Homo sapiens: one gene and its partners. Changing the gene in region 2 together with the main gene of any one other region gives a genetic interaction. Each region holds a gene or a part of one and is shown on either strand. Other genes may lie near its edges. The genes, in order: MAX, CDH1, DRC2, DDI2, UBE2T, C16orf96 and CHD4.

Region 1 (4,343 bases), on a different chromosome or scaffold from region 2:
CCACAGGGTAAAGGCAAGCCATCTCAGTTATACCTGCTCTTCATTAGAGCAAGCAAAGATTGTGCAGGTTGTCTAAGCAGATAGGCATTAAGAAAACTTATTTATTGAGAGCTGATATTTCCATAAAATCCGGGGATGTAGTTGTTCCAAAAGTCTTAAAAATTATCCCTGGGTAATAGTCATTAAAGATAATTTGTTTTATTTTATTTATCCTTGAAGTATTCTCATATACTTATGCATATATTTGAAAATTGAATTCCTTTTTCACATTTACTTTTATCCTTCATGTTTGGGGCCTAGTCTGTTGAAAACTTTTTTTTTCCCTGCAAGTCTCCAGTTGTAAAATCTGTGCTAGGGCTTGATCAGAGCTGGAGGGTAAGGATCGTTTAGCCTTCCTTTGCAGAATTATCCTTTGAATTGAAATTATACTGACTTCCCAGTAAGAGAAAGTTGTGTTTTTTTTGTTTGTTTGTTTGTTTGTTTGTTTTTTTGGTGAAATTTTGGCTCGCAGTTCTTGAAAGCTTTCTGCTTTTCAAAATTTTCATCCATATGATCGTTGATATAAATTTGTTATTAAATTATTATAATGTTTCTGCTTTCCTGGAATGCTAATCTCATTGTTTTGTCTAGATGTTTTTAGTTTGCTGTTAAGGTGCCTAGGATTTTTCCTTTTGATTTTGGGGGTAGGCAAAGGAAGTTGGTTTGACACTTTGTTTTTAATTTAACACATCTATTTGTTGATATTTCTAAATATTACTCTGCACAATGTAATTACAACAGCATGGAGAGAAAAAGCAGATATGTTATAAACAAATTTTATAGTATATCAAACAACTATTGTGACTGTGTAGGGTAAAAAGGATTCCATTTTTTCCCCTCTGTGAATGCATCTGCTTACTTCTCAATATTTAATATGGATAATAAATATATTTTTTAAAATTTAAGAGGGAGCTATTCTTAAGTTTTGCCTTAGAAAAAAGGTTTAAAAAAAGATGTGGACTGTGAACAACCAAATACTTAGGTATTCAGGACTACAGAAGATGTTGAAAAAGTTATTTGAAAAGGGTTCTGTGGATCCTAATATAAAAACATTCATGTATGTTTTATAATGTCACTACAATATATAGGCCTTACTACATGAGAAATGTAAGATACTGAGAAGAGAGTTAGGAAGTTAGGCTAACTCTAACAGAAAGTGAAACTGATTTGGCAAATATTTTTTTCTATTGCTTCAGTACAAACGGAAAACAGCTTCTCCAATGGCCAGTAAGCTTTGTTAAAGGAAGTAACCCCAAAGAGTATTCTTACTACTAAATTCAGTACATCGCAAAATCCCACTGATGTTATTTTTATTATATTTTGGAGGGAAGAGGTTGCATTTTAAAGATAAATTTGTGGGACAGGTATATTATATTGCAAGGGCTTCCTTTTGCTTTATTTCTGTTTGGGAAATTTCTTTAGGAAAGAGTGTAAGTATACAGGAAATGTATGGGTTAGTGTGTTGGTCAGGAAATGCAATTTTTTTTCCAGTGACCATCCTTGATGGCACCTGACTGAGTTGCAGTTGCAGTATACTTGTGAGGGGTTTGAAAACAGATTTGTGCAATTCCACTTCTGGACCTTTCTGGCATGAAATATTTTTAACTTCTCAGAGCTCTTTGCTTCTTTAGGAATATTCAGAAGAGAACGAGCTTGGTAGCCTCCGAGATTGGAATTCACTCAGGAAACTACTGTCTGTTTTACCTGCAGTCAGTTGCATGGCAAAAGTGCTGCACAATGCATGTACTTTTTCTCTGCTTAGAGTGTTGACAGTGATGCTTACAGTGATAACAAATGCCAGAGTTAGTTCCTAAATGTGCCTGTGTTAGGGTAAAAGTTGTTCTTATGTCTAAAAGAATTTTTCCAAGATGCCAGTAACGGTGAAATAGTTGGTCAAAGAATTCAGCTTGGTTTTTAATTAAAATTTCCTGACCAAGGCATCCTTCTCTGAAATGGCTATAGTATGAGGCCCTGTTTGGATTATAGCATTTGCCAGTTATTTTAGGCACCAAAAGAAAAAAGTTTGAAAACAAATACATACATTAGATAATGTTGGAAATGTATACCAGGCAATCAGCTACAAGCAGGACAGGTATTGGAAAATTGAAATCCATGTCTTTCTCTTAGGGAGCTTGGTGAGTTTATCCCATCCTACCTGCCTATTATTTTATGTTATAATTTTTGGGTTGATTAAAATGAATATTTTAAGTTGCTTAGAAATTGAGCTTTATCCTATCTTGTTCTTATCTATCAGAAGTAAGAAATAGATCTTTTCGGATGAGATTTTTGGGTCTGTGTATTCTCGTGTCCTTAGTCTCTAATAAGAATAGCTTGATAAGAATCATAAGCAACACAAGCTTCCCTCTAAAATACAACCTTCACATTTTGTAAAGGTAGTAAATATTGAGTGGGCAACTAATTCCCTATATGCTGAGAATTTTCTGTATTAGAATTGAGATGGTTCCCCTTATAGGTGGGGTTAGCTGTCAGGTAGCCTGTAAGACATGGCATTGTTCTGGAGAACCTTGTGCATCCTGGAATAATGAAGCATTTATTTCCCCGTGCTATTTGCCTAGAACTTGGAGGAAATAAGATTACTGACTGATGTGATGCCTTGAACAAAGATGCAGTCTCTCTGCAGTAAGTTGGAAGGAAATAATTTTAAGAGATTTCCCTCAATTTTGAACAGACCTCCTTAGCCTAGATGACTTCTTGCCAACATAGCAACTTCTTGGCTAACAAAATAATGTTTGTCTTCAACATCTAACAACACTTAAGATACACGTGCTTGGTAGTGTCAAAGATGGACAAATTGTAGGTGAAGATTTTTATTCTGTCTACCAGTGTGGAAAGTTGGGTAGAAATATAACTGAGAGGCTGAATAAAAACTTTGGCAGAGATGTCAAAGCTGGAAGTGATTTGGTGCGGGAGTTTCTGTTGAGCATCTGTGGACCACTGCATAGCCCCTTAGTATTTCTGTTAGGGATGCCCTGGAGGAAGGGTTTTCTGGCAGACATCCAGACGTACAAATCCAGCGTACTAGAAGAGTGGGCAGCATCCAGCCACTGTAACCATAGGATGTGTAGGGGAGATGTTTGGGAGCCTGCTGTACAGTCCAAGAATACCTCTGTGGTCTCCTAGAATAGGGCCTAATTAATTCCACAAGGGGGTTTTCCGTACCATTTGTTTTCATTACTGAACATCATTCTCAGTACAGGCTCATCTGAGTAGAGTTTTATTTGTTCAAGACAATTGTTTGGGCTTGTTTTTTAAAACCAGTTTTGCATTTGGGGGAGGATATTAGATGCCTTACACTGGGAGTCTTCACCCAGTTTTTCTTCTTCAACTCTGAAATCTTGGCCCTCTCAAAAAGGGTTGCCAGCAAGCAAAGACAGTTAACAAGGCAGTGATAAAGCCTGCAAACTAGTCCTCCAATGGGGGTGGGGATGAGGCGCGGGCAGTGTTATTGGTCTGGGTGGATCTGTGGTTTGGAAATGTTTCCCACAGAGAATTCTCAGCCTTGTGTAAAGGTTTTTCTGTTTTTCATGTGCTCTTTCAAAACATTAGTGATAACATTTAATTCACAGTTGCCTGGAATTAGGCTTGTTAGTTCTGCATGTTTTTAACTTGTTCTTTCAAATCAAGCTTGGGGAAGAGAAAAATACATCCTTGCCATTGTCTCTGAGAGATTTAAAATTGACTCCACTAGTAGCTCAGGGATGGACATGGCAGCAGGGATTGGTGTAAGATTCCACTCTTCTGCTAGTTAAATTGGGCCTGGAACCACTACAGAAATTCCATCCACTACTTTGAGAACAACAGTCCCCAGCCCAGGCTTTCTACCAGGCAGTGGACTGCTGCCTTTCCTTGTTGAGCCAACTTCTCAAACTTGGCTGGCTCCCCAGATGAGAAGCCAAGATTTCTGCTCATGATCTACAGCCAAGTTCACTTACAATCCTCCAACCGAGAGACTTGTCCATTTGAGTCCTTTCAGAGCTCAGTGAATGGGAGGGGGTAGTGCATTGTGGGGATGATTTTGGTGTTAGATTATACTTAGCTCCACCCCTTTAGTGCAGGTCCACGTGAAACCAAGTGCAACTTCATTCTAGCTGTTTGAGATTTGCAGGGCTCTCCCAGAAAGAAAACAGACAATTAGAATTTTATTTGTATCAACAAGAGGGATTGTGGGTAATTCTGGTGCACAGCTCTTAGCTGGGAGGAGGGCCAAGAATCAGGGTGATTTAGTAGACAGGAGTATCTTGGGCTGCTCTGGAGACCAAAGATGGGCAATTAATTTGCATGTA
Region 2 (4,343 bases):
CTTAGAAGTAGATTCGCTTTGGCAGGGGGACAGGGTGACTTTCCCAGATTGTAGTGGACCATGTGGGATTTGCAGTGGCTCTTCCTGCTCATGTAAGAAATCAAGAAACTGTGCTGTGTGTGGTGGCTCACGCCTGTAATCCCAGCACTTAGGGACGCTGAGGCAGGCAGATCACGAGGTCAGGAGTTTGAGTCTCTGCTAAAAATACAAAAATTAGCCAGGCATGGTGGCACGTGCCTGTAATCTCAGCTACTAGGGAGGCTGAGGCAGGAGAATTGCTTGAACCTGGGAGGTGGAGGTTGCAGTGAGCCAAGATCGTGCCATTGCACTCCAGCTCTGGGTGACAGAGCAAGACTCAGTCTCCAGGGGTGGGCGGGGAAAAGGAGGCCGGGCGTGGTGGCTCACGCCTGTAATCATAGCACTTTGGGAGGCCAAGGCGGGCAGATCACAAGGTCAAGAGATCGAGATCATCCTGACCAACATGGTGAAACCCCATCTCTACTAAAAATACAAAAATTAGCTGGGCATGGTGGTGTGCACCTATAGTCCCAGCTACTAGGGAGGCTGAGGCAGGAGAATCGCTTGAACCTAGGAGAGGGAGGTTGCAGTGAGCCAGGATCGTGCCACTGCACTCCAGCCCGGCAACAGAGTGAGACTTCGTCTCAAAAAAAGGAAATCAAGAAGCTAAGGCTTCTTGGTGGCTCATGGTGGCTCATGCCTGCAATCCCAGCACTTTGGGAGGCCGAGGCGGGCAGATCACCTGAGGTCGGGAGTTTGGGACCAGCCTGGCCAACATGGTGAAAACCTGTCTCTACCAAAAATACAAAAATTAACTGGGCGTGGTGGTGCACACTTGTAATCCCTGCTGCTTGGGAGGCTGAAGCAGGAGAATCGCTTGAGCCTGGAAGACAGAGGTTGTAGTGAGCCAAGATCGTGCTACTGCACCCTGGCCTGGGCAACAGAGTGAGACTCTGTCTGAAAAAAAAAAGAAATCAAGAAGCTGTTACACAGGATCCTGAAATTGAAAAAGAAGTACTATCTGCTTTAATAGGCTCTTTCCCAGAAACATTCTCCTTCCCTCAGCTCTTTCCATTTTGCGGTGACAGAGAAAATGATTTACTGGTCTCTGCTCTTGTGCTGGTTTATTTTAGAAGTGGGGCAGATATGGTTGTTTTTGAAAAATGTCCTAGAAACTTGAAAACTAGCCAAGCGCAGTAGTGTATGGCGGTGGGCCCAACTACTTGGGAGGCTGAGGTGGGAGAATCACTTGAGCCCAGGGGGTTGAAGCTGCACTCAGCTATGATCATGCCACTGTACTCCAACCTGGGCAATAGAATGAGACTCCATCTCTTAAAAAAAAAAAAAAAAAAAGATGGCCGGGTGCAGTTGCTGATGTCTGTAATCCCAACACTTTGGGAGGCCAAGGCGGGTGGATCACCTGAGGTCAGGAGTTCGAGACCAGCCTGGCCAACATGGTGAAACGTCGTCTCTACTAAAAATACAAAAAATTAGCCAGGTGTGGTGGCGGGCTCCTGTAATCCCAGCTACTAGGGAGGCTGAGGCAGGAGAATTGCTTGAACCCAGGAGGTGGAGGTTGCAGTGAGCCATTGCATTCCAGCCTGGGTGACAAGAGCAAAAATTCTGTCTCAGAAAAAAATAAAATAAGGAAAGAAACTTGAAAACTAAGAATTTGAGTGAATTGCTTGTTGAAGTGACTGGATCCCTAGAATAGCCCCAGCTTTGCCTTCCTCTTGAGTAGGTGAGCAGATTTGAGAAGCCATGGTAAGTAATTGTGGTTTCTGCCATTGAAAGTCATGGCAGAAACCACAGTTACTTTTGCACCAACCTAATATATTACCAAAAGCAACAGTTAAGGATTTAATTTTATTTTTACTAACACAAAATGTTTCGTTTTGTTTTTAACTTCATTGTTTCTGCTCTCTAGGGCTTGGATTTTGAGGCCAAGCAGCAGTACATTCTACACGTAGCAGTGACGAATGTGGTACCTTTTGAGGTCTCTCTCACCACCTCCACAGCCACCGTCACCGTGGATGTGCTGGATGTGAATGAAGCCCCCATCTTTGTGCCTCCTGAAAAGAGAGTGGAAGTGTCCGAGGACTTTGGCGTGGGCCAGGAAATCACATCCTACACTGCCCAGGAGCCAGACACATTTATGGAACAGAAAATAACGTAAGTGTGAGGATTTTTCAACTGACTTGCAGCAACTGGTTATTTTATATCATTTTATATGTAAATCAATAATATGTACTTCATGGCATTTTGTCATTTGTCTGTACAAGACCATTCTCTTAATTTATTTTTTATTCCCTTTATCTGTGCTCCTTTCACCTGTTCCCTTCCCTTCACAGACAGCCGTTCTTGGTCTGATGTGCTGCCTCTCTTTGAGCTCTTGTAGTATGGTAGAAATGCAATTTTACTTTGCATACATACTATTGTGTTTTTTTGAGTTTGGAGTCTCACTTTGTCGCCCAGGCTAGCGTGCAGTGGCGTGATCTCTGCCTACTGCAGCCTCTGTCTCTTGGGTTCAAGCAATTTTCATGCCTCAGCCTTCCATGTAGCCAGGATTACAGGTGCCTGCCACCACGCCCGGCTAATTTTTGTATTTTTAGTAGAGACAAGGCTTCACCACATTGGCCAGGCTGGTCTCGAACTTCTGACCTCAAGTGATCTGCCTGCCTCCTAAAGTGCTGGGATTACAGGCGTGAGCCACCGCACCCAGCCCATAGTATTGTGTTCTAAGTAGCTTACTATCAGTATTTCTCCTTTCAAACTTGAAGGTACCTCTATAATGTAAATCACACAGATGCTGAGAACTGAGAACCCACATGCCAACCAACCAACTACAACACTTGCTTTAAAATACTCTCATTTTGGGTTGGGCATAGCAGCTCATGCCTGTAATCCCAAAACTTAGGGAGGCCTAGGCAGGTGGATCACTTTGAGGCCAGGTGTTGAAGACCAGTCTGGCCAACATGGTGAAACCCCTGCCTCCACTAAAAACACAAGAAATTAGCTGGGCATGGTGGTACACACCTGTAATCCCAGCTACTCGGGAGGCTGAGGCACGAGAATCACTTGAACCCAAAAAGCTGAGGTTGCAGTGAGCTGAGATCGAGTCACTGCACTCCAGCCTGGGTGACAGAGTGAGACTCCATCTCAAAAACAAAAAACAAAAAAACTCTCATTTTCTATGTGTAGCCAATGGACTCCTCATAATCTAGAGATATTTCTACATGCTCCAAACTGTAAGGCCTGGCAAGATGGGTTTTAATCGAAGTTTAAAAGAATGATGAAAAGTCAAAGACAATAATGTAGGATTAGGTTCAGTGATGAAACCCTGGATTGTACAGTTTCCAGGCTGGGTTGAAAGCTTGCAGTAGTGAAATAGATAGTTCAAAGCATCTCCTGGGGCAGATTCAGGGACCAGGTCTTTAGTGTCTGTTTCCAGAGGCCCTTACGCCTGGAACAATGACCACTTGATGTAATTCATTGCTTTGCACTTCCAAAGAAGTGAGGCCAAGCCCACAGTTTCTTAGAGCCCTTTCCTCCTTTGATTTCTTAGTTTCTCTTTCAGAGCCTTTCCATGACCCTAGTAAATAACTGAGCAGTAGATCTCTGTTAGCCTCCCTGTACCTCCCATTAAATGGCAATAGTGCAGTCCACCCACAGGTCAACAGGGCAACCTGCATCTCCAGATGTTCATGACAGGAGAGGAGGTGGCATGTTGCCACCATTTAGGAACTACTGTATTGTTTGGGGGAGCTGGTCTGCAGGAGTCTGCTTTTAAAAATAAATAAGGATTATAGTAATCATTGCTTCAGCAAGAATCATCCACAGATGCCAAATCCATTGGGTGAAAATTAGTTGCTGAACAAGATATTCTCAAATTATCTACCTGCAGATTATAGGTTAATCATGCAGTGAAAAAAGGCACCTTTGCTGTGAAGAAATCTGGTGGCCTTTCCCTTATCCAAGTGATCAAAGTTATCAATAGAAGCACAGACAGACATCATGTGCCTCCCAGTGTCCTGCACTAGGGAGGCCACAGCATCACCTCTGTCCTGTTCTTGCCCCCACCGACCCCTGAAATGGATTACCTGAATCTAAATTTTGAGGAATAATCAGACAAACCCAAGTTAAGGGGCATGCTACAAAACAACGGCCAGCACATTTCAAAAATGTCAGTGACAGAAAAGAAAGACCTAAGGAAGAGCCATGCCAACGAAAGGCCATATTGGATCCTGAATCCAGAAGGGTGCAAGGTTGCTATAAAGGACATTTTTGGAAAATCTGACAATTCGAATATGCACCATATATTCGAC
Region 3 (4,343 bases), on a different chromosome or scaffold from region 2:
TGAGACCGAGTCTCGCACTGTCACCCGGGCTGGAGTGCAGTGGTGCAATCTCGGCTCACTGCAACCTCTGCCTCCCAGGTTCAAGCAATTCTTCTTGCCTCAGCCTCCCAAGTAGCTGGGATTACAGGCACCTGCCACCATGGCCGGAATTTTTTTTTCTTATTTTTAGTAGAGATGGGGTTTCACTATGTTGGCCAGGCTGGTCTCGAACTCCTGACCTCATGATCCACCCGCCTTGGCCTCCCAAAGTGCTGGGATTACAGGCTTGTGCCACCGCACCCGGCATTTTTGTATTTTTAGTAGAGACAGGGCTTCACCATGTTGGTCAGGCTGGTCTTGAACTCCTGACCTCATGATCTGCCCACCTTGGCCTCCCAAAGTGCTGGGATTACAGGTGTGAGCCACCGTGCCCAGTCTTTTTTTTTTTTTTTTTTTTTTGAGACAGGGTCTTGTTCTGTCACCCAGGCTGGAGTGTAGTGGCATGATCACAGCTCACTGCAACTTTGAACTCCTGGGCTTAAGCAATCCTCCTGCCCAGGCCTTGTGAGTAGCTGGGATTACGGCCTGGGTAATTTTTATGGGTTTTTTTGTTTGTTTGTTTGTTTTTGTAGAGATGGGGGGGTCTCATTATGTTGCCCAGGCTAGTCTTGAGCTCCCAGGCTCATGTAATCCTCCCACCTTGGCTACCCAAAGTGTTGGGATTACAAATGCGAGCCACCTTGCTCAGCCCTTGCCATCACTCTTGCTTTACACAAGAGTGAGGGGGACAGCCAGCATTCTTAAAGTCAAAGAATTGGCATTAGGAACAAAGAAAAAACTGCCAGCTGAATATATTTTTATTTTCTCACAGAGATGCTATTCAGCTGGAATGGTAACTCTCTCTTTCTGGCCTAGTCTTTAGCTAAAGACCTGTCCGAAGCCGAGGAGCAGTACGCCCATGCCCTGCGCAGCCACTTGCACAATGTTGACCAGCTCTTGGCCCTGCAGAGGCACCGGCTCAGTCTCCTGGAGGAAAGTTACAACATGGAGCTGGAAGCCCTAACCAAGGAGTTTGAGACAGAAAGGTATGGGGGCCTAAGAGAAGATGGGGAATTGAATCCAGGGGAGTGCCCAGAGTCCGTGTCAAGGAGTTGCCTGTAAGCAAGTGGCTAGTATCTTGGAGCATCCCACATTGATTATCACGGGACCCCCAGCAGAGAATATCTTGGTTCCTTTTAAACAAACTCGGGCTTAAGTTTGCAGCTCTAGCTTCCCTTTACTCACGTCAGGTCCCTGTCTGTGTACCTTCACCACCCACTTTCTTCTTTTTTTTTCTTTCACTATTTTTTTCTTTATTGTTTTATTTTTTTATTTTGTTTTGTTTTTTCAAGACGGAGTGTCGCTCTGTTGTCCAGGCTGACATGCAGTGGCACGATCTCAGCTCACTGCAACCTCTGCCTCCCGGGTTCAAGCAATTTTCCTGCCTCAGTGTCCCCAGTAGCTGGGATTACAGGTGCGTGCCACCACACCTGGCTATGTTATTGTTTTACTTTTTTAAATAACTTTTTTTTCTTCTTTTTAAATTTAACTCCTCAAATTCCTTTTACCAACTACCCACTTTCTTTCTTTTTTTTTTTTTTTTATTGATCATTCTTGGGTGTTTCTCACAGAGGGGGATTTGGCAGGGTCACAGGACAATAGTGGAGGGAAGGTCAGCAGATAAACAAGTGAACAAAGGTCTCTGGTTTTCCTAGGCAGAGGACCCTGCGGCCTTCCACAGCGTTTGTGTCCCTGGGTACTTGAGATTAGGGAGTGGTGATGACTCTTAATGAGCATGCTGCCTTCAAGCATCTGTTTAACAAAGCACATCTTGCACCGCCCTTAATCCACTTAACTCTGAGTGGACACAGCACATGTTTCAGAGAGCACAGGGTTGGGGGTAAGGTCACAGATCAACAGGATCCCAAGGCAGAAGAATTTTTCTTAGTACAGAACAAAATGAAAAGTCTCCCATGTCTACTTCTTTCTACACAGACACGGCAACCATCCGATTTCTCAATCTTTTCCCCACCTTTCCCCCCTTTCTATTCCGCAAAGCCGCCATTGTCATCCTGGCCCGTTCTCAATGAGCTGTTGGGCACACCTCCCAGACGGGGTGGTGGCCGGGCAGAGGGGCTCCTCACTTCCCAGTAGGGGCGGCCGGGCAGAGGGGCTCCTCACTTCCCAGTAGGGGCGGCCGGGCAGAGGCACCCCTCACCTCCCGGATGGGGCGGCTGGCCGGGCGGGGGGCTGACCCCCCCACCTCCCTCCCGGACGGGGTGGCTGCCGGGCGGAGAGGCTCCTCACTTCTCAGACGGGGCAGCTGCCGGGCGGAGGGTCTCCTCACTTCTCAGACGGGGCGGCTGGGCAGAGACGCTCCTCACCTCCCAGACGGGGTGGCGGCCGGGCAGAGGCGCTCCTCACATCCCAGACAGGGCGGCGGGGCAGAGGCACTCCCCACATCCCAGACGATGGGCGGCCGGGCAGAGACGCTCCTCACTTCCTAGATGTGATGGCGGCCGGGAAGAGGCGCTCCTCACTTCCCAGATGGGATGGCGGCCAGGCAGAGACGCTCCTCACTTTCCAGACTGGGCAGCCAGGCAGAGGGGCTCCTCACATCCCAGACGATGGGCGGCCAGGCAGAGACGCTCCTCACTTCCCAGACGGGGTGGCGGCCGGGCAGAGGCTGCAATCTCGGCACTTCGGGAGGCCAAGGCAGGCGGCTGGGAGGTGGAGGTTGTAGCGAGCCGAGATCACGCCACTGCACTCCAGCCTGGGCGCCATTGAGCACTGAGTGAACCAGACTCCGTCTGCAATCCCGGCACCTCGGGAGGCCGAGGCTGGCGGATCACTCGCGGTTAGGAGCTGGAGACCAGCCCGGCCAACACAGCGAAACCCCGTCTCCACCAAAAAAATACGAAAACCAGTCAGGCGTGGAGGCGCGCGCCTGCAATCGCAGGCACTCGGCAGGCTGAGGCAGGAGAATCAGGCAGGGAGGTTGCAGTGAGCCGAGATGGCAGCAGTATAGTCCAGCTTCGGCTCGGCATGAGAGGGAGACCGTGGAAAGAGAGGGAGAGGGAGACCATGGGGAGAGGGAGACCATGGGGAGAGGGAGAGGGAGAGGGAGAGGGACCAACTACCCACTTTCAACTATCAAAATCCTACCCATTTGGCAGGGAACAGGGATGGGAGAGAGACTTCTCACTGTAACCTTTTGTACTTTTTTTGTATCACATGAATGTATTACCCATTCAGAAATCAAAATAAAATAACCTTACTCATTCTTTCTAGCCCTAAAAAGAGTAAAGCCTTCCCTCTCTCTTTTCTCCATCAGTACCTAAGAGTTTGTACCATTCACATAGATTACATACTGCTTTGAATTGTCATTATTGGTCAATATCCTGTATCCCTCAGAGCAGGGACAGTGTCTTGTCTCCTACAGGAAGACAATTATTGACCAACATGAGAAAGAGATTCACTATCTGCAAGATATCTTCATGGCCATGGAGCAGAACTATATAGATTCTGAGTATGAAAGCAAGCTGGAGTTCCAGAGCATGTGGAATGATCTCAAAAACATGGTACGGAGGGAGAGTAGATAGGCAAGAAGTGGGAGGAGGTGATAGAAAAATGCTCAAGGAGGCTGGGCACAGTGGCTCACACCTGTAATCCCAGCACCTTGGTAGGCCAAGGCAGGAGGATCACTTGAGACTGGGAGTTCAAGACTAGCCTGGGCAACATAGGGAGTCCCCCCCATCTCTACCGGCCCCCCCAAAAAAGAAAGAAAATAGCCAGGCGTGGTAGTGTGTGCCTATGGTCCAAGCTACTTAAGAGGCTGAGGTAGGATGATCGCTTGAGCCCAGAAGATGGAGGCTGTAGTGAACTGTGATAGCAACACTGCCCTCCAGCCTGGGTGACAGAGCGAGACCCTGTCTCAAAAAAATTAAAAAAAGAAAAAAAGAAAAATGCTCAAGGCTACTAGAAGTAGAAGAGACCCCTTTAGCCAACACAGTCAATAAAACATCTATTGCCCCCTGTAGGTATCCCTAATGCTTTTTGTAATTTTGTGAAAATTGGTTGGGAGGGAGGACCATTCTAAATTGTCAAGGGAATGCATTTTAGAGCTAAAAAGCACCAAGGAGATCATCTGGCTTCACCCCTGTGATTTTCAGATGAAGAAAGTAAGGCACAAGTAAGTAAAATGACCTGCCAAAGTCATGCTGCTGGTTTGTGGTAGAATCAGGAGAATCTAGGTCTCCTGCCCCTTGATCCAAAGTGCTTTCCACTGTCCTCGAGGTTGCAATCTTAGCCAGCCCACAGACCTA
Region 4 (4,343 bases), on a different chromosome or scaffold from region 2:
GCAAGGTATGGTTTGCTGGCTCAGTTGTCAATTTAGAAACTTTTGACCACATAATTTGGTGTTTGGAATTCTACCCAGTGCTCTGTGTATCATGATTCATTAATTATAACAGGAAATTGGAGAATAATTGAATATCTTATCGTAGAGTGGTATGTTTTTATTTGTGTGCTTAGGATTTGACATTTTAATAGGGCGAGCAGGAGGGTTTAAATCTTGGGCTACTTTGTGCATCACAGGCTGCTGCATGGATTGCCATGAATCCTTATTACATTGGATGGGATATTGTGGGGGAGTTACAATGCAAGTGAAACGTGGTGCTACCCAGATTCTTAAAAGAACAGAACAACCATAATTCCATTTGCAGATGTCAAGAACTGTGAGGGAAAAATAATGGCCTAAACACTGGAATTTGCTAGAGTTTGGGTTTGCTAGCATCTCACTGATAACACCTCAACCCTTAATGACTAATGGTGGAATTAAGTTCAGGAATGGATTCATTGCCAGCAGCTTATTTCCTTTCTAGACTCTTCTGCCAGGAAGTTCTTCAAACGCTCAGTGTGAGCTGTGATCTGAGTGAAATACTAAGTGTGATAACCTTGTCACTGGTTAATCTTGGTGCTTGGAACGGTCAGTCTATTTGGAGAGTGTCCTTTGTGGCAGTGGAAATAGTAATTACAGTTTCTGACTTAAGTGGCCTTGGTAGAGTTTTCCATCCTTTTCTTTCCTCAGGAGTTTCTTTTTTAAGCAAAATTCATCTTATTTGTGTTTACCATGTCAAGTTAGAGTGGGGCATAATATATAGATGTATTTATTGTGGCCTTTTTTTATATAAGGACTAGCCCTTGGAAATCATTGTCCTGTGGGCCCCACTGTGCAATAATCCTACTGGATAGGTTTTAGATAATTCTTTCCTGGCAAACTGCTCTTTTGGGTACCTAGCAGGAATCTGAAGTCTTGGTTTTATTGAAAAGAATTTTGAGATTCATAATTTCTGATTCTAGATTATAGTTTGTAACATGTTTGAAACAGAAGCTTCGAAAGAGTGATTTCTCAACTTAGTGTTAAATGATTTTGTCTGAAGTCTGACTCTTTGTAAGCTTGTTTGTTTCATCAAATTTTAAGTCATTGAGCACAATCAAAATGGAGGCTCATATCTCAGGAGTTTTTGAAATTTTAATTTAGGGGCACTTAGAGACATTTTTTTCTACCCCATCCAACTTCTTTCTTTCCTTTTGCTATGATGTTTGTATGTATGTTATAAGACTTTAGTGATGGGATGGCGTGTCACGTAGATTCATCATGATCCTTTATGTAGTTAGGAAATGGTTGACAGAAGGAATTGTAGTTTACTGCTTTTCAGAGGGCGTGAAGAACAACAGGTCAGCCAGGTTGTCTTTAAGATGTTCTTTTAGACAGCTGCACATTGTAGACCCTTTCACCTGCCCTACACCAAAGATGTACGATGCACTAGGAAACTGCTCATAGGATTTCTGTCAGCTGACTTAAAGCTGTGATTGTAATTAAATAGTTGGTGCTATGATTGATGCAAAATCTAGTAGCAATGCAATGGGACCCTGTATTTGCTTTATGGGTGGTGGTTTGGGAATGTATTCTAAGCTTATAAATCTTTGGAACCACGGGGTGGGAAGGGTGGGGGAACTTACTGATGACAATAGACTCCCTCCTAAAGGGCCTTCCATGTAAGCAGAACGAACCTTGGCACACAATTCAGTGTGGATATTTGGGAAACAGTTCCAAGTGGAATATATAATATCAGTCGGGAAAAGATTTCATTAGGATAGCTTTTTGTGTATGTATATGTATATTTATTTTTAGGAATAGATCTATAGTTGTACATGAATTCCTGTTAGGAATACTCTGAATGAGCTTAACCCACTTGCCAAATATCCTTGTCCCTTCCATCATTTTATTTTTGAGATGGGGTCTTGCAGTGTTGCCCAGGCTGGACTCAAACTCTGGGGCTTAATCATCCTTCTGAGTAGCTGGGACTACATAAAGGCCAAAGTATAATTGCTTTTGATTTTTAAAATCTTCTTGCCCATCATTTTTATAAAAATAAAGCTGTTTGTCCAACACGGTGAAACCTCATCTCTACTAAAAATACAAAAAATTAGCTGGGCATGGTGGCACACGCCTGTAATCCCAGCTACTTGGGAGACTGAGGCAGGAGAATTGCTTGAACCTGGGAGATGGGGGTTGCAGTGAGCCTAGATCACGCCACTGCACTCCAGTGTGGGCGGCAGAGTGAGACTCTGTCTCACCCAAAAAAAAAAAAAAAAAGCTATTGACACTGTTAATATTTTGGATGACTTAAATTTAGCAGCTCTAGAATGCAAAGGGTATATTAAGGAGCATTACAATAGTGAACCTTCATCGTCAGCTTTTATTCAATTAAGAGCTCCAGAAATGCAGAAATTATGGGTTAACTTCTAAGAATACCATCAAATCCCTGTGAATTCTGGTTGCCAACAGTAATAACCAGTAATGGGCACCTTTACCGGACAGCTCCTTTACCATAACCAGTAGTGGGCAGTTCTGCGGTCAGCACTTAACTACAAGGGCGGTCTCTGTTTCTTCACCAGAGAGAGAAGATTTTCCTGTGTAATTTGTGCCATTTCCCTGAAGTTGGTTCTTGAGCGGAAAGATGTGCTTGGTAACCAGACAGCAGCTTTACATAGGTTATAGATTTTGCTCATTGATGCTGTTAAGAATTATTTCCACTCATACCTGTTCAGGGCTCCAGACAGCCAATAGCCTTCATCCCACAGTTTGGGCTTCAGCTATTAACACATAAAGATAACCAGTTGCAGCTAGGCTCGGTGGCTCACACCTGTAATCCCAGCACTTTGGGAGGCCAAGGCGGGTGGATCACCTGAGGGCAGGAGTTTGAGACAGGCCTGGCCAACATGGTGAAACTCCATCTCTACTAAAAATACAAAAATTAGCCGGGTGTGGTGGCCCATGCCTGTAATTCCAGCTACTCGGGAGGCTGAGGCAGGAGAATCACTTAAACCTGGGAGGCGGAGGTTGTGGTGAGCAGAGATCACGCCATTGCACTCCAGCCTGGGCAACAAGAGCAAAACTCTGTCTCAAAAAAAAAAAAAAAAAAGGTAACCAGTTGCTTGGCAAAGGAAGCTGGAGAGATGGCGAGTGCATGTGTTAAAACTCTTCTGCCTTGCAGCCCACATCTTCTAGAGCTCCCTGTCTTCATATGTACTAAAGGGAGACACAACCCTATGTGTTTTTTCCCAAAGCATGTCTCTAGCAAGAGGGTACATAGAAATGGAACATGAGGCTTTTTGTCACTGATTTTATGATAACCAGTTAATGTGGAATCTGCTGGTTGTCTTACTACAGCTTTCTATCTCCGGTGAAAGCCATAAAAATTTAGGTTAACTTTTAAGCTCATGTCTATATATATGTGTGTAAGCTAGCATATACATATGGTGATTGACAAGTATAGTTAATTTTATATGGATTTAAAAGCAAGCAATTTTTATATCTACAGACGTACTCTTCACTTATGGTGGCTTTTATCCCGCCACATATATAAATATATATATATATAGCAAACAGCCTTGCAAATCATCGGCCAGAAAAGCTGCAGGGCGTTGCAATGGCCTTTTCCTACCTGTTTGCCACCTGTGGTGAGGGTGAGCAGGATGATTGAACTGCTGCATATTTCAAACCTGTTATCACTGGCAGTGTGTCCCAAGAGAAGCTGACCAGATTATGCATTCTACTGTTCTCTAGCACAAGTACTCACCAAAAAGCCAAATTTCCCCTTTGGAGTTGGTGACTTAGTGTAGTCTGTGGCTGACCTAGAAAGACACAGAGTTATCAAGAGTTTCCCTTCCTAGAAGATGAATGTTACCTTTTGTGTTAGGAGGTAGAGAAAATAAAAATAGCTTTTTTTTCCCTAGAATTGCTAATTACTCTTAACAACAAATTAAATTCAAAGCCTGTCCTTGAGAACTGGAAATGTAAAATCATGGTTCAAGTTTTATACCTTAGTGATTCCTCAGTAGGTGTTACTAGGAGTTCACTGAATGAACTTAGGAGTGAACCTTCGATGTGCTTGATTTTCTTTTGTGCCTTAGTTTCTCTGAATAGCAGAGGCATCAAATTTTGGTGGGGAATGAGAGGAGTATTAGGGGAAAGTTTGAAAATAGCTCTCCTGGAGATGGAGGGCACACAGAGTGGTCCTCAGGCTCACCTTGACTGAGTTGATTCACAGTTATCCTGCATCAGACCATTAGATTTCTTTAGTGCTATGATTATAATAGGGATTTTTGAATCACCAAAAACAGTTTTTAGATGTT
Region 5 (4,343 bases), on a different chromosome or scaffold from region 2:
CCACCGTGCCCAGCCCCACCCCCATATACTTTGAATTATTTCTTGATTACTTATAATACCTAATAAAATGCTAAGTAAATTGTTGTTACACTGTATTGTTTAGGGAATAATGACAAGAAAAAATGTATAGTACGTGTTTGGACGAAGATGTTTTTTTTTTTTTTTTTTTTTTTGAGACAGAGTCCTAATCTATCGCCCAGGCTGGGGTGCAGTGGCGTGATCTTGAAGTACAAAACACTTCCAGCAAAAAATCTTTATTTTTAAGAAAAAAGTATTTTTTCTCATTTTCTATTTTTGTCATAAATTTTTATTCTTTCCAGTGGAACCAAAACTTGAACTTCCTTTTGGTTGATACATGCCCAGCAAGACTGATCAAAGAAAAGATGGCACAGATAAACAGTGTTAGAAATGAAAATGGAAACATAACCATAGATAACTACAGATTAAAAAGATAAAACATTATACAAATAAATTGAAAATTGCATGTAATAGATAAATTTGTGGAAAAATTTAACTTGCCAAAATTGATGCAAGAATAAATAACTTGAATAAGATTCAAGTAAATTGGATTTGTAGGTTAAAATTTTCTCAAAATGAAAACACCAGGATCAGATGGAGTTATTCCAGACAACCTAGTAACAAATTATCTCTTGGACTAATCCACAATATGTTAAAAAAAAAAAAAAAAAAAAAAAGGAGGCAATACTCCCTAACTCATTTTAGGAGGCTAGCATAACCTTGATAGCTAATAAAGACAAAATTAGAAAGGACAGTTATAGGCCAGTCTTACTGATTAGCATAGTGTTAAAAGCTTTCCCTTTAAGGTTAGAAATCTGACAAGAATGCCAACTATCAGCTTTTCTTTCTTTCTTTTTTCTTTTTTTTTTTTGGCTGTTGTTTAGACAGGGTCTCACTCTGCCTCCCAGGCTGGAGTGCAGTGGCACAATCATGGCTCACTACAGCCTCAGTCTCCCCGGGCTCAGGTCATCCTCCCACCTTAGCCTCCTGAGTAGCTGGGATTACAGGCTCATGCCAGCATGCTTGGCCCAGCTATCAGCTTTTTCATTTAACATTGTACTAGAAGTTACTGTCAGAATAGAAGGCAGGAAAAGAATTAGAAGGGAAGAAATAAACTTGATTATATGTGGATGACATGATTGGCAGTGTGGAATTACCATTCCCAGACTGCTCCCCACCCCAAATAGATTCATCATTAGCATTACTAAGGCTTTGGTTAAAAATCAGTTAGATTGGCTGGGCGAGGTGGCTCATGCCTGTAATCCCAGCACTTTGAGAGGCTGAGATGGGTGGATTACCTGAGGTCCGTGGTTCGAGACCAGCCTCACTAACATGGAGAAACCCTGTCTTTACTAAAAAAATACAATATTACCTGGGCCTAATGGTGCATGCCTGTAACGCCAGCTACTCAGGAGGCTGAGACAGGAGAATCGCTTGAACCCAGGAGGTGGAGATTGCGGTGAGCCAAGAGCACACCATTGCACTCCAGCCTGGGCAACAAGAGCAAAACTCCATCTCAAAAAAATAAAAAAAAATCAATTAGATTTACATGTATCAGTAAGAAATGGGTAGAAAATAGTGTTTTTGAAAAGATAGCAAAAATATAAATACTTAGAAATCAGTCTAACAAAAATTAGATAAAGCTTTATAGAGAAAATTATAAAACCTTTGGAAAGCATCAAAAAAAAGACTGAAACAGCGTGTTCATGGATCTTAGGATTCAATATCATAAAGATATCAGTTATCTCCAAATTGATCTATAGCATCAATAAAATTACAATCCAAACCACAGAACCCTGTTATGATTTGGATTATAATTTCAGATATACATATTTATGTATATATTTATGGACTTATGAACTGATTCTCAAATTTATATGGAAGAGCAAAGAGTCAAGAATAATCAAGTCATTCCTGAAGAAAAAGACCAGGTGGATAAGCTATAGTAAAACATCACATTGTACACCTTAAATATATACAATTTGTATTTGCCAGTTATACCTCAGTAAAGCTGGGAAAAAATTTAAATAATAAAAAATGAATAAGCTATAGTAATTCAAACAGTGGAGTATTGTCTCAGAAATAATCCACTTGACCAGTGGAACAAATTCAAGAGTCCCAAAACAAATCCACACATATAGAAATTTAATTTATAGTAATATCAGCAGGGAAAGGATGGACTGATTCAGTAAATGATGTTAGAACAATTGACTATTCATATGGGGAAAAACTTTAAATTGGACCCCCACCTCACTCACTATACATAAAATTCAATTCCTAGTGGATTCAATATTTAAATTTGAATAGCAAAATTATAAAATATTTGAAGGCTATGTAGGAATATCTCTACATTTGGGGGTAAGGAAAAATTTAATACACAAAGTATAAATGTAAAGAAAGAGATTTTAAGATTGATTATGTTAAGAGTATGTGTTTATTGAAAGACACCATGTACAACATGGAAAGATAAGCACAAACTGGGGGATATTTGTAACACATTAAAGGATTGGTGTTGGCTGGGCGCGGTGGCTCACGCCTGTAATCCTAGCACTTTGGGAGGCTGAGGTGGGTGGATCACGAGGTCAGGAGTTCAAGACCAGCCTGGCCAAGATGGTGAAACCCCATCTCTACTAAAAATACAAAAAGTAGCCGGGCGTGGTGGCGGGCGTCTGTAATGCCAGCTGCTCGGGAGGCTGAGGCAGAGAATTGCTTGAACCCGGAAGGCTGAGGTTGCAGTGAGCCGAGATCGCACCACTGCACTCCAGCCTGGGCAACAGACCGAGACTCCGTCTAAAAAACAAAAGGGATTAGTGTCCTTTGCTTGGTTAGTAAAGAGAGAACTAGAGTTGAGAAGAGTGTTGGGTGAATATGTGTGTAGGTGTTGGTTTTAGGTGAGAGAGACTTTGAGCATATTTGAACATTGAGGGTAAGAAAGATGGAATAATTGATGGAATGGTATCCCTGAAGATTGGGAGAAGGTGGAATCCATAGCACATGGAGAGAAACTCGGACATTTAACATTTGTTTGTACCTGAGAATGTTGACTATCTCTACCATTCTTGCTCTCACAAAGCATATGTAGACTTCCTCACAACAGCAAATATTTGTCAAATCCCTTACTATGACAGGCATGCTAAGGCTACAATAGTAAGCAAAATCAGACCCAGGCCTGGCCTCATGAGTTTATAATTTATCAGTGGAAACACCCATTATTTAAAACCTTTAGTGTTTTTATTTTTTGTAGAACTTTTTGCATTTTTAGTTCTTTATTTTAAAAATATATTTGCTTGTATAGATAAACGTTCACAAGAAGGGAGTGGAAAAACTCAGATTCCCTTGTCAGAATAGAGATTAATAAGAGGAATCTTGGACTGGCGTGGTGGCACACACCTGTACTTCCAGCTACATAGGCGGCTGAGATGGGAGGATCACTTAAGCCCAGCAGGTGGAGATTGCAGTGAGCTGAGATTGTGCCACTGCACTCCAGCCTGGGTGACAGAGCAAGACCCTGCCTCTAAAAAAAAAAAAAAAAAAAAAAAAAAAAGCTGGGTGCATTGGCTCACGCCTGTAATCCCAGCACTTTGGGAGGCCAAGGCAGGCGGATCACCTGAGGTCAGGCATTTGAGACCAGCCTGGCCAACATGGCGAAACCCTGTCTCTACTAAAAATACTAAAATGAGCTGGGCATGGTGGTGCACGCCTGTAATCCCAGCTACTCTGGAGGCTGAGGCATGAGAATTGCTCAAACCCAGAAGGTGGAAATTGCAGTGAGCTGAGATGGTGTCACTGCCCTCCAGTCTGGGTGACAGAGTGAAACTGTGTCTCAAAACAAAAAAGAGGACTCTGTCCCCCACCCTCACTACATTGAAGCTGTTTGCTGAAAACTTCATAGTCATTATTGCTGATGATTTTATGGTCACCTCTTTTCTCCTCCAGTGCATCCCAGGCAGCTCTTAGTGTGGAGCAGTGAACTGTGTGTGGTTCCTTCTACTTGGGGATCATGCAGAGAGCTTCACGTCTGAAGAGAGAGCTGCACATGTTAGCCACAGAGCCACCCCCAGGCATCACATGTTGGCAAGATAAAGACCAAATGGATGACCTGCGAGCTCGTAGGTATCAAATCATGTATATGATGAAAGTCATGACCCTATTGAAGATTGTGCTGAAATAAAACATTTTGTGTATTCTTCTAAAGTAAGGAGCAGTTATAAGGTCAGAGTGCCCTACCATCTTTCTACCCAAATTTGTTTACATTTATAAAAGGTTTGCTTGACATTTCTTGCTTCTTTGACTTTTTATTATACCTTATGCTGATTTATAGCCAA
Region 6 (4,343 bases), about 64 Mb from region 2:
CCTTCTGTACTTCTGTAGCCAAAAACCATCAGCCAAGTATTTTCTAACACCCTACCATGCATGGAAGGACATGGAGTCCCCGAGACATGAGGCAGCTGTCCCCGTCACAACTGATGAGTCACAGCTGGGGTCTGAAGCCAGCTCTCCACACCCCCAGGTTTAACAACTTCCCCCAAATAGTGTAATTTTCTGTATCATCCCGGCTTCACAGATCAGGGCCTGTATTTGATCATCATGGCAACTGTGGGAGCTTTAGGCATGGGCTGGATGGCTCCCATCTAAGCAGAAAGAACGCTGTTAAAAGCTGCATCATGAGCTACTCAAAAGGGCCCCTTAGACAAAGCTGTTGGAGAAACCATGCCTTCTCGGCGGGGCCTGGTGTCTCACGCCTGTAATCCCAGCACTTTGGGAAGCCAAAGCAGGCGGATCACCTGAGGTCAGGAGTTCGAGACCAGCCTGGCCAACATGGTAAAACCCCCGTCTCCACTAAAAATACAAAAATTAGCTGGGTGTGGTTGCAGGCACCCGTAACCCCAGCTACTCAGGAGGCTGAGGCACGAGAATCACTTGAACCCAGGAGGTGGAGATTGTAGTGAGCCAAGATTGCGCCACTGCACTCCAGCCTGGGTGACAGAGCAAGACTCCGTCTCAAAAAAAAAAAAAAAAAAAAGGTGGGGTCGGTGGGGCGGCATGGTGGTTCACGCCTGTAATCTCAGCATTTTGGGAGGCTGAGGTGGGCAGATCACAAGGTCAGGAGATCGAGACCATCCTCGCTAACACGGTGAAACCCCATCTCTACTAAAAATACAAAAAATTAGCTGGATGTGGTGGCAGGTACCTGTAGTCCCAGTTACTCAGGAGGCTGAGGCAGGAGAATGGTGTGAACCTGGGAAGTGGAGCTTGCAGTGAGCCGAGATCACACCACTGCACTCCAGCCTGGGCAACAGAGTGAGACTCTGTCTCAAAAAAAAAAAAAAAAGAAAAAAGAAAAGAAAAACAATGCCTTATTGGCCTGTCTCTTGGAGGTGTTTTTGTTGTTGTTGTTTTGTTTTGTATTCTTTTTGAGACGGAGTCTCTCTCTGTCACCCAGGCTGGAGTGCAGTGGCACGATCTCAGCTCACTGCAACCTCTGCCTCCCGGGTTCAAGTGATTTTCCTGCCTCAGCCTCCTGAGTAGCTGGGATTACAGGTGCAAGCCACCACGCCTAGCTAATTTTTGTGTTTTTAGTGGAGGTGGGGGCTTCACCACATTGGTCAGGCTGGTCCCGAACTCCTGAACTCATGATCCACCCGCCTCAGCATCCCAAAGTGCTGGGATTACAGGCATGAGCCACTGTGCCCGGCCCTCTTGGAGATTCTTAATGTGCTTTTGCTCATTCAAGGCTCTGGGAAGTCCTGCCGTACAGAAACCTGTTGAAATGTTTTTTATTTATTTATTTATTTACTTATTTTTGAGACAAAGTCTCACTCTGTTGCCCAGGCTGGAGTGCAGTGGCGCCATCTCAGCTCACTGCAACCTCTGCCTCCTGGATTCAAGTGATTCTCCTGCCTCAGCTTCCTGATAGCTGGGATTACAGGCGCATGCCATCAGGCCCAGCTAATTTTTGTATTTTTAGTAGAGACGGTGTTTCACCATGTTGGCCAGGCTGCTGTCGAACTCCTGACCTCAAGTTATCCACCCACCTTGACCTCTCAAAGTGCTGGGGTTACAGGCATGAGACACTGTGCCCGGCCTGACATGCTTTCAAGCCCAGCATTTCCCAAACTTGTTTGCCCATGGAACCCTTTCCCACTCCTTGGGAAACACTGGATTTGGAACCCGTTCTTCCTTCTCAAGCTCTTAGTCACCTAGAGCCACGGGAAAAGGCAGGGGTGGGACAGAACCTGGACCCCCAGTCCACAGACTCAGTTCCTTTGACAGGTACACCCAGAAAGAATGGACATCTTTGCTGAAGACTTCAAAATACAGAACTGGAAGATGGTTGCACTGCAGCGGGAAGTGGTGAGGGCCACCATCCCTGTCTTCCCCCACTCCCCCTGGGACCCCCCAACCTCCCGGGTCCTGGGTGCTGAGGGTAGGGAGGTGCAAGGAGGAGAACACAGCCTGGAAAGGTTTCTTTGCAGGTGTGGGGGACACTGCCCCCTCCAGGCTCACAGCCCTCATTTTCTACCCCCACCTTGCAGGCTTCTCTCCAGAATAAGTTTAAAACCATCCCCAAAACCGAGGACATGGTGCTCTGGAGTGGCCTTCATGATGCCATGTTCACCTCAGTGAGTGAGGAAGGAAGGGGAGGTTAGCAGGAAGCTGGGGAGCAGGCGGGTGGCTGACTGAGAGTGGGAGGCGGGGCTGGAAGCCAGCAGAGCCCCTCTGCCCCCTCTTCTGCAGGAAATTGGTTCATCACCACTGGACCTGTGGCAGTCTGTAGAGCAGCTCCCAGAGGCTGCCCTGGCCCAGACCACCAAGTACCTTGAAGCTACTCGTGCCATCCAGGTCTCCGAGCCCGTCCAAAACCCCCAGCTACTGCAGACTGTCTGGCATTATGAGGTCCCAGAGCTCCTCCCGGAGGGCTCATCTGCCCAAGCAGTTTCACTCAGCAGAGCCCAGGAGCCAGCGCAGCCTCCGGCCCTCACGCCTGAGTCTGCACCTGGGTGCACAACTGAATTTGCACCTGGGCCTGCACCTGGGACTGAACCTGTGCCAGGACTGGAGCTGGGGCTGGAGCTGGAGCCTGTGCCTGCCCTGGGGCCTGTCCCAGGGCCCAGTGTGACACCTGGGTCCTTGCCAGCACCTTGGCCTGTGCTTGGACCTGTGCCTGCCCCAGGTGCCCAGCCTCCACCACTGGGAGACTGGCCTGCACTCCCAAGACGCTGGCCTCTTCCCCAAGGCTGGCCCAGGGTGGGCTCTTGGCCTCTGTGGGACTTAGGTGTCCTGCGGCCAACTCAGCCCCAACCCTCCAGGGCCCCACCACCAGCCACTGAGTTTGGCTCATTGTGGCCTCGACCACTCCAGCCATATCAGTCTCGCCAGGGAGAAGCCCTCCAGCTCGCAGCTGTCCAAGTAAAGGGGGAGGAAAATGATGTCCCCAGCCTAAGGGGCCTTCGGGAGAGGGCCCGCAAGGATGGGGCCCCCAAGGATAGAACTCGCAAGGATGGGGTCCCCAAAGATAGAGGTGGCAAGGATGTGGACCCCAAGGATAGAGCTCACAAGGATGATGTCCCCAAAGATAGAGGTGGCAAGGATGTGGACCCCAAGGATAGAGCTCACAAGGATGATGTCCCCAAAGATAGAGGTGGCAAAGATGGGGACCCCAAGGATAGAGTTGGCAAGGATGGGGCCCCCAAGGAAGCACAGCCTAAGGCTCCCCAGTCTGCCCTTCACCGGCTGAAAACCACCGCTGCCATCGCCGCCGCTGCCGCCGCAGCCTACGCCGCTGCCACATCCTCCGCTGCCCAGGCAGCCAAAGTTGCTGCCAAGTTTGTCAAGGATGCCCCAGCCACCAAAATGGCCGCCATTGCAACAGACACGGCTGCAGCTGGGCCCCTAGGGGTCTTTGCAGATGTCCTGGGTGCAGGGCCTTCCCGGGGAGCCACAGAATCCCAGATCTTGGGCGATGATTCCGAAATCTACGAAATCCTCTCTCCCTCCTACTCTGCTGCCAGCATCGGTCCCGATCCAGCCCTGTCCCAGGCCATGGTGGCTACCAAGCAGGCCATGAGCCCTGAAGACAAGAAGAGGGCTGTCAAGTATTCCATGAGCCACATAGCCCAGATACCTGTCAAACACGACTCTCTGAAGGAAGAATTTGCCCAGCTGTCCTGTAACCTGAACCAGCGCTTGAGTTATCTAGGTAGGCCTGGTCTGGCCCTGGGAAGGGCACAAGGGAGTGGGGCTCTCCCTGCAGCCTTTGAGAAGTGTGTCCTGTCCTTCACTGGGCTCCACCAACAAAATCTGCATTCCACCATTAGCCATTCTTTCCTTTGGCTTAAGCATTTGGCTCTTAACGAGTCTATTCTTTTCTGTTGAATGTACAATGAGGTCTTATCTTAGGGCAGGGAGGCTGTTAGGGTCTAAAGTTGGCACGAGGAAAATGGCATGCCAAAATTACTCTCAAAAACTCTTGTGGCCAGGCGTGGTGGCTCCCACCTGTAATCCCAGCACTTTGGGAGGCTGAGGTGGGCGGATCACCTGAGACCGCAAGTTCAAGATGAGCCTGACCAACATGGAGAAACCCCGTCTCTACTAAAAATACAAAATTTGCTGGGCGTGGTGGTGTATGCCTGTAATCCCAGCTACTCGGGAGGCTGTGGCAGGAGAATCGCTTGAACCCAGGAGGCAGAGGTTGC
Region 7 (4,343 bases), on a different chromosome or scaffold from region 2:
GCGGGAGTTCAGTACCAATAACCCCTTCAAAGGCAGTTCTGGGGCATCAGTGGCAGCTGCGGCAGCAGCAGCGGTAGCTGTGGTGGAGAGCATGGTGACAGCCACTGAGGTTGCACCACCACCTCCCCCTGTGGAGGTGCCTATCCGCAAGGCCAAGACCAAGGAGGGCAAAGGTGAAATGGGGTTCAAATGGGAGTGGGGGTGTCTAGTGTGGGCTTAAGATGTCAAAGACAGCATGGGAATGCTGGTCTGTCAGCCCTAAGGTAGGAGATAGGAGGGAGGAATGAGTCTTGGATTTTGGAGGGAAATTTGGGAATCTGAATGTGGGGAAGCAAGCTTAGGTGGAGAAGATTTTATTTTCCCCATCTTTGGTCTTGTGGTATATATTTGGATATATCCTGATTTTAGGTCCCAATGCTCGGAGGAAGCCCAAGGGCAGCCCTCGTGTACCTGATGCCAAGAAGCCTAAACCCAAGAAAGTAGCTCCCCTGAAAATCAAGCTGGGAGGTTTTGGTTCCAAGCGTAAGAGATCCTCGGTGAGAGCCCAGCCCATCGCTTTAGGGAGGGTGCCATGTCTAATAGAAAGGATGTGACCTTCTATCAGAACCTGTCCTTCATAGTAGGCACGTAAGAATGTGGGGCGTTTCCCACAGAACAAGATGAGACTAGGCTCCCTGTATAACGGTGCTTGCTGGGATTCTGGTGTCCCCAGTGAGAGAGTACTCCCCTCTCTGCCACTCTGTCCTTCCCCTTGGCTTGAACGTCTAACCTTATTCTTTTTCATCCTGCCAGAGTGAGGATGATGACTTAGATGTGGAATCTGACTTCGATGATGCCAGTATCAATAGCTATTCTGTTTCTGATGGTTCCACCAGCCGTAGTAGCCGCAGCCGCAAGAAACTCCGAACCACTAAAAAGAAAAAGAAAGGTGTGTTTCTCTTCTGTATATTTGTGATGGGATGAGGTGGGAGTGATTGGGGAAGAATCTCCCTAAGGAGATAGGGGTCGGGGGGTGGGGGGAGGTAGTTTTTTTCCAATAACTGGGCTTTCCCTCTTCCTTGCCCAGGCGAGGAGGAGGTGACTGCTGTGGATGGTTATGAGACAGACCACCAGGACTATTGCGAGGTGTGCCAGCAAGGCGGTGAGATCATCCTGTGTGATACCTGTCCCCGTGCTTACCACATGGTCTGCCTGGATCCCGACATGGAGAAGGCTCCCGAGGGCAAGTGGAGCTGCCCACACTGCGTGAGTGTCTGGCCATTGTGGCCCCTTGGAACCCATGAGAAGAAGGGTGGGACAGTAAAGCTCTTCGGGGCCTGGATGGAAATGGAAATGCTGGTGCTGCGGGTTGTGAGCTTTGGGAAGCATTCAAAGGAATGATGGGCACTGGCTTCAGACTGCGGTGGGCGGGTGGGGGTAATAATCTGAATCTGTGGTCCTTTACTGCAGGAGAAGGAAGGCATCCAGTGGGAAGCTAAAGAGGACAATTCGGAGGGTGAGGAGATCCTGGAAGAGGTTGGGGGAGACCTCGAAGAGGAGGATGACCACCATATGGAATTCTGTCGGGTCTGCAAGGATGGTGGGGAACTGCTCTGCTGTGATACCTGTCCTTCTTCCTACCACATCCACTGCCTGAATCCCCCACTTCCAGAGATCCCCAACGGTGAATGGCTCTGTCCCCGTTGTACGGTGAGTGACTGATCTCAGCCGGGGCAAAAAATGGGAAAGTGTAGTCTTTTCTATGTAGGCTATTGTGAGGCTGGGGTGCAGGAGAGGAACTATGAGCTTTTCAGCCCTGAGAAAGGTATTCTCCTTCATCCTATAGTGTTGGGATACTTTTGTCCTGGGAAAATATAGGACTAACTTCAAACTGAGGAGTTGATGTTTTGCCAGCTCTCTTAAGAGGAGATGAAGCAATGTTCTTCTAGCTGAGAACATTTGTCCCTGTGTTGACACCCTGCCTCAGGGTCTTGGTAGCTTACAATGTTTTCAATTTTTTTGTTAAAAAAATTTTTTTTTTTGGAGACAGGGTCTCATTCTGTCATCCGGGCTAGAGTGCAGTGGTGCAGTCATAGCTCATTGCAGCCTCCAACTCTTGGGCTCAAGTGATCCTCCTATCTCAACCTCTTGCTGAGTAGCTAGGAGTACTGGTGCATGCCACCACATCCAGCTAATTAAAAAAAAAAAATCTCTGTTGAGACAGGGTCTCACTATGTTGCCCAGGCTGGTCTTGAATTCCTGGTCTGAAACCATTCTGCTCCCTTGTCCTCATTAAGTGCTGGCATTACAGGTGTTTACCACCATGCCAGCCAGTTTAGAATGTTTAATAGGGCCACTTACTGCTTTAGATTGCTTAAGGGAGGAATTCTGTGCTCTAAGTCTGTTGATTTCCTGATTGTTCTGGCTTATTGTTAAAGTCTAACTACTGGCTCTGTTAAGCAGATAGGAGTGATGGTGGCACGCAAATCCTGGACGATGTCCAGAAATGGAGAGGGAATTCTATTACAGGTTGAGCACCCTAATCCAAAAATGTGAAATCCAAAATACTTCTGGTCCCAAGCATTTCACATGAGGGGTCCTCAACCTGTATTTTCTCCCTGGAGGAGTCCTGGGATTAGATTTTATTTGAAATGAGATCTTTTTTTATTTTTTTGAGATGGAGTCTTGCTCTGTCCCCCAGGCTGGAGTGCAGTGGGGCAATCTTGGCTCACTGCAAGCTCTGCCTCCCAGGTTCAAGTGATTCTCCTGCCTCAGACTCCCAAGTAGCTGGGACTACAGGCGCATGCCACCACGCCCAGCTAATTTTTGTATTTTTAGTAGAGACGGGGTTTCACCATGTTAGCTAGGATGGTCTCGATCTCTTGACCTCGTGATCTGCCCGCCTCGGCCTCCCAAGGTGCTGGGATTTCAGGCATGAGCCACTGCTCCAGGTCTGAAATGAGATCTGAATCGTCCTTTGATGAAGTTGAGACTGTGGGCTGTCCCTTCTCCTCCCATGGTTATGATTTGAGATTAAGTTGTCTCTTTTTCTCTCAGTGTCCAGCTCTGAAGGGCAAAGTGCAGAAGATCCTAATCTGGAAGTGGGGTCAGCCACCATCTCCCACACCAGTGCCTCGGCCTCCAGATGCTGATCCCAACACGCCCTCCCCAAAGCCCTTGGAGGGGCGGCCAGAGCGGCAGTTCTTTGTGAAATGGCAAGGCATGTCTTACTGGCACTGCTCCTGGGTTTCTGAACTGCAGGTAAGTTTAGGATAGTCTGGAGATGTAGGGGCTACGATGAAGAGGATAGTGACAAAAGAGCCTTGTGGATAGAAGGAATGAACACAGCTTCTTGGTGGCTGATTTTCTCTTTCCGCTCAAAGCTGGAGCTGCACTGTCAGGTGATGTTCCGAAACTATCAGCGGAAGAATGATATGGATGAGCCACCTTCTGGGGACTTTGGTGGTGATGAAGAGAAAAGCCGAAAGCGAAAGAACAAGGACCCTAAATTTGCAGAGATGGAGGAACGCTTCTATCGCTATGGGATAAAACCCGAGTGGATGATGATCCACCGAATCCTCAACCACAGGTACCAGCTGAGCACACGGGAGACGGGCAGTCTCCGTGGGAGAGTCCTGCTAAAGAGATTGGGAAAATGGCTGTCACCAGTAACTTAGACTTGGAAGACACTGGTTTTTTTTGTTTGTTTTTTGTTTTTGAGACAGAGTCTCACTCTGTGCCCAGGCTGGAGTGCAGTGGCGTGATCTCGGCTCACTGCAACCTCTGCCTCCCAGATTCAAGTGATTATCCTGCCTCAGCCTCCTGAGAAGCTGGGACTACAGGCGCAAGCCACCATGCCCAGCTAATTTTTTGTATTTTTAGTAGAGACAGGGTTTTCATTCTGCTGGCCAGGCTGGTCTTGAACTCCTGACCTCAGGTGATCTGCCTGCCTTGGCCTCCCTAAGTGCTAGGATTAACAGGCGTGAGCCACCACGCTCAGCCTTATATATTTATTTTGAGACAAATTTTAGCTGTGTTGCCCAGGCTTGAGTGCAGTGTCGTGATCACTGCTCATAGCTGTCCCAAACTCCTGGGCTCAAGCAATCTGTCTGCTTCAGCTTCCCAAAGTGTTAGGATTACAGGCGTGAGCTACTGCGCCTGACACTTCATGTTATTATCTTTATTTATTTATTTTATTATTATTGTTTTTTTTTGAGACAGACTTGTCACCCAGGCTGGAGTGCAGTGGCGTGATCTTGGCTCACTGCAAGCTCTGCCTCCTGGGTTCACGCCATTTTCCTGCCTCAGCCTCCCGAGTAGCTGGGACTACAGGCCATCGCCACCATGCCTGGCTAATTTTTTTT

What was found.
Region 1: changes in CDH1 (region 2) and MAX together harm fitness more than expected from each alone (negative genetic interaction), as found in Homo sapiens cells (one large-scale study listed by BioGRID).
Region 3: changes in CDH1 (region 2) and DRC2 together harm fitness more than expected from each alone (negative genetic interaction), as found in Homo sapiens cells (one large-scale study listed by BioGRID).
Region 4: changes in CDH1 (region 2) and DDI2 together harm fitness more than expected from each alone (negative genetic interaction), as found in Homo sapiens cells (one large-scale study listed by BioGRID).
Region 5: changes in CDH1 (region 2) and UBE2T together harm fitness more than expected from each alone (negative genetic interaction), as found in Homo sapiens cells (one large-scale study listed by BioGRID).
Region 6: changes in CDH1 (region 2) and C16orf96 together harm fitness more than expected from each alone (negative genetic interaction), as found in Homo sapiens cells (one large-scale study listed by BioGRID).
Region 7: changes in CDH1 (region 2) and CHD4 together harm fitness more than expected from each alone (negative genetic interaction), as found in Homo sapiens cells (one large-scale study listed by BioGRID).

Annotation. Positions count from the first base shown.
Region 1 is NC_000014.9:65,095,680-65,100,022, reverse strand, and holds part of MAX (protein max), read left to right. Parts: intron 1-4,343. UniProt on the Homo sapiens protein: Transcription regulator. Forms a sequence-specific DNA-binding protein complex with MYC or MAD which recognizes the core sequence 5'-CAC[GA]TG-3'. The MYC:MAX complex is a transcriptional activator, whereas the MAD:MAX complex is a repressor.
Region 2 is NC_000016.10:68,813,570-68,817,912, forward strand, and holds part of CDH1 (cadherin-1 isoform 1 preproprotein), read left to right. Parts: intron 1-1,945; coding exon 1,946-2,190; intron 2,191-4,343.
Region 3 is NC_000012.12:48,913,510-48,917,852, forward strand, and holds part of DRC2 (dynein regulatory complex subunit 2), read left to right. Parts: intron 1-894; coding exon 895-1,064; intron 1,065-3,460; coding exon 3,461-3,599; intron 3,600-4,343.
Region 4 is NC_000001.11:15,662,151-15,666,493, forward strand, and holds part of DDI2 (protein DDI1 homolog 2), read left to right. Parts: 3' UTR 1-4,343. UniProt on the Homo sapiens protein: Aspartic protease that mediates the cleavage of NFE2L1/NRF1 at 'Leu-104', thereby promoting release of NFE2L1/NRF1 from the endoplasmic reticulum membrane.
Region 5 is NC_000001.11:202,335,430-202,339,772, reverse strand, and holds part of UBE2T (ubiquitin-conjugating enzyme E2 T), read left to right. Parts: intron 1-3,954; 5' UTR 3,955-4,018; coding exon 4,019-4,127; coding exon of another isoform or gene 4,128-4,131; intron 4,132-4,343. UniProt on the Homo sapiens protein: Accepts ubiquitin from the E1 complex and catalyzes its covalent attachment to other proteins. Catalyzes monoubiquitination. Involved in mitomycin-C (MMC)-induced DNA repair.
Region 6 is NC_000016.10:4,572,789-4,577,131, forward strand, and holds part of C16orf96 (uncharacterized protein C16orf96), read left to right. Parts: intron 1-1,920; coding exon 1,921-2,001; intron 2,002-2,183; coding exon 2,184-2,270; intron 2,271-2,385; coding exon 2,386-3,847; intron 3,848-4,343.
Region 7 is NC_000012.12:6,597,119-6,601,461, reverse strand, and holds part of CHD4 (chromodomain-helicase-DNA-binding protein 4), read left to right. Parts: coding exon 1-173; intron 174-408; coding exon 409-536; intron 537-792; coding exon 793-928; intron 929-1,066; coding exon 1,067-1,245; intron 1,246-1,449; coding exon 1,450-1,689; intron 1,690-3,036; coding exon 3,037-3,240; intron 3,241-3,362; coding exon 3,363-3,568; intron 3,569-4,343. UniProt on the Homo sapiens protein: ATP-dependent chromatin-remodeling factor that binds and distorts nucleosomal DNA. Acts as a component of the histone deacetylase NuRD complex which participates in the remodeling of chromatin.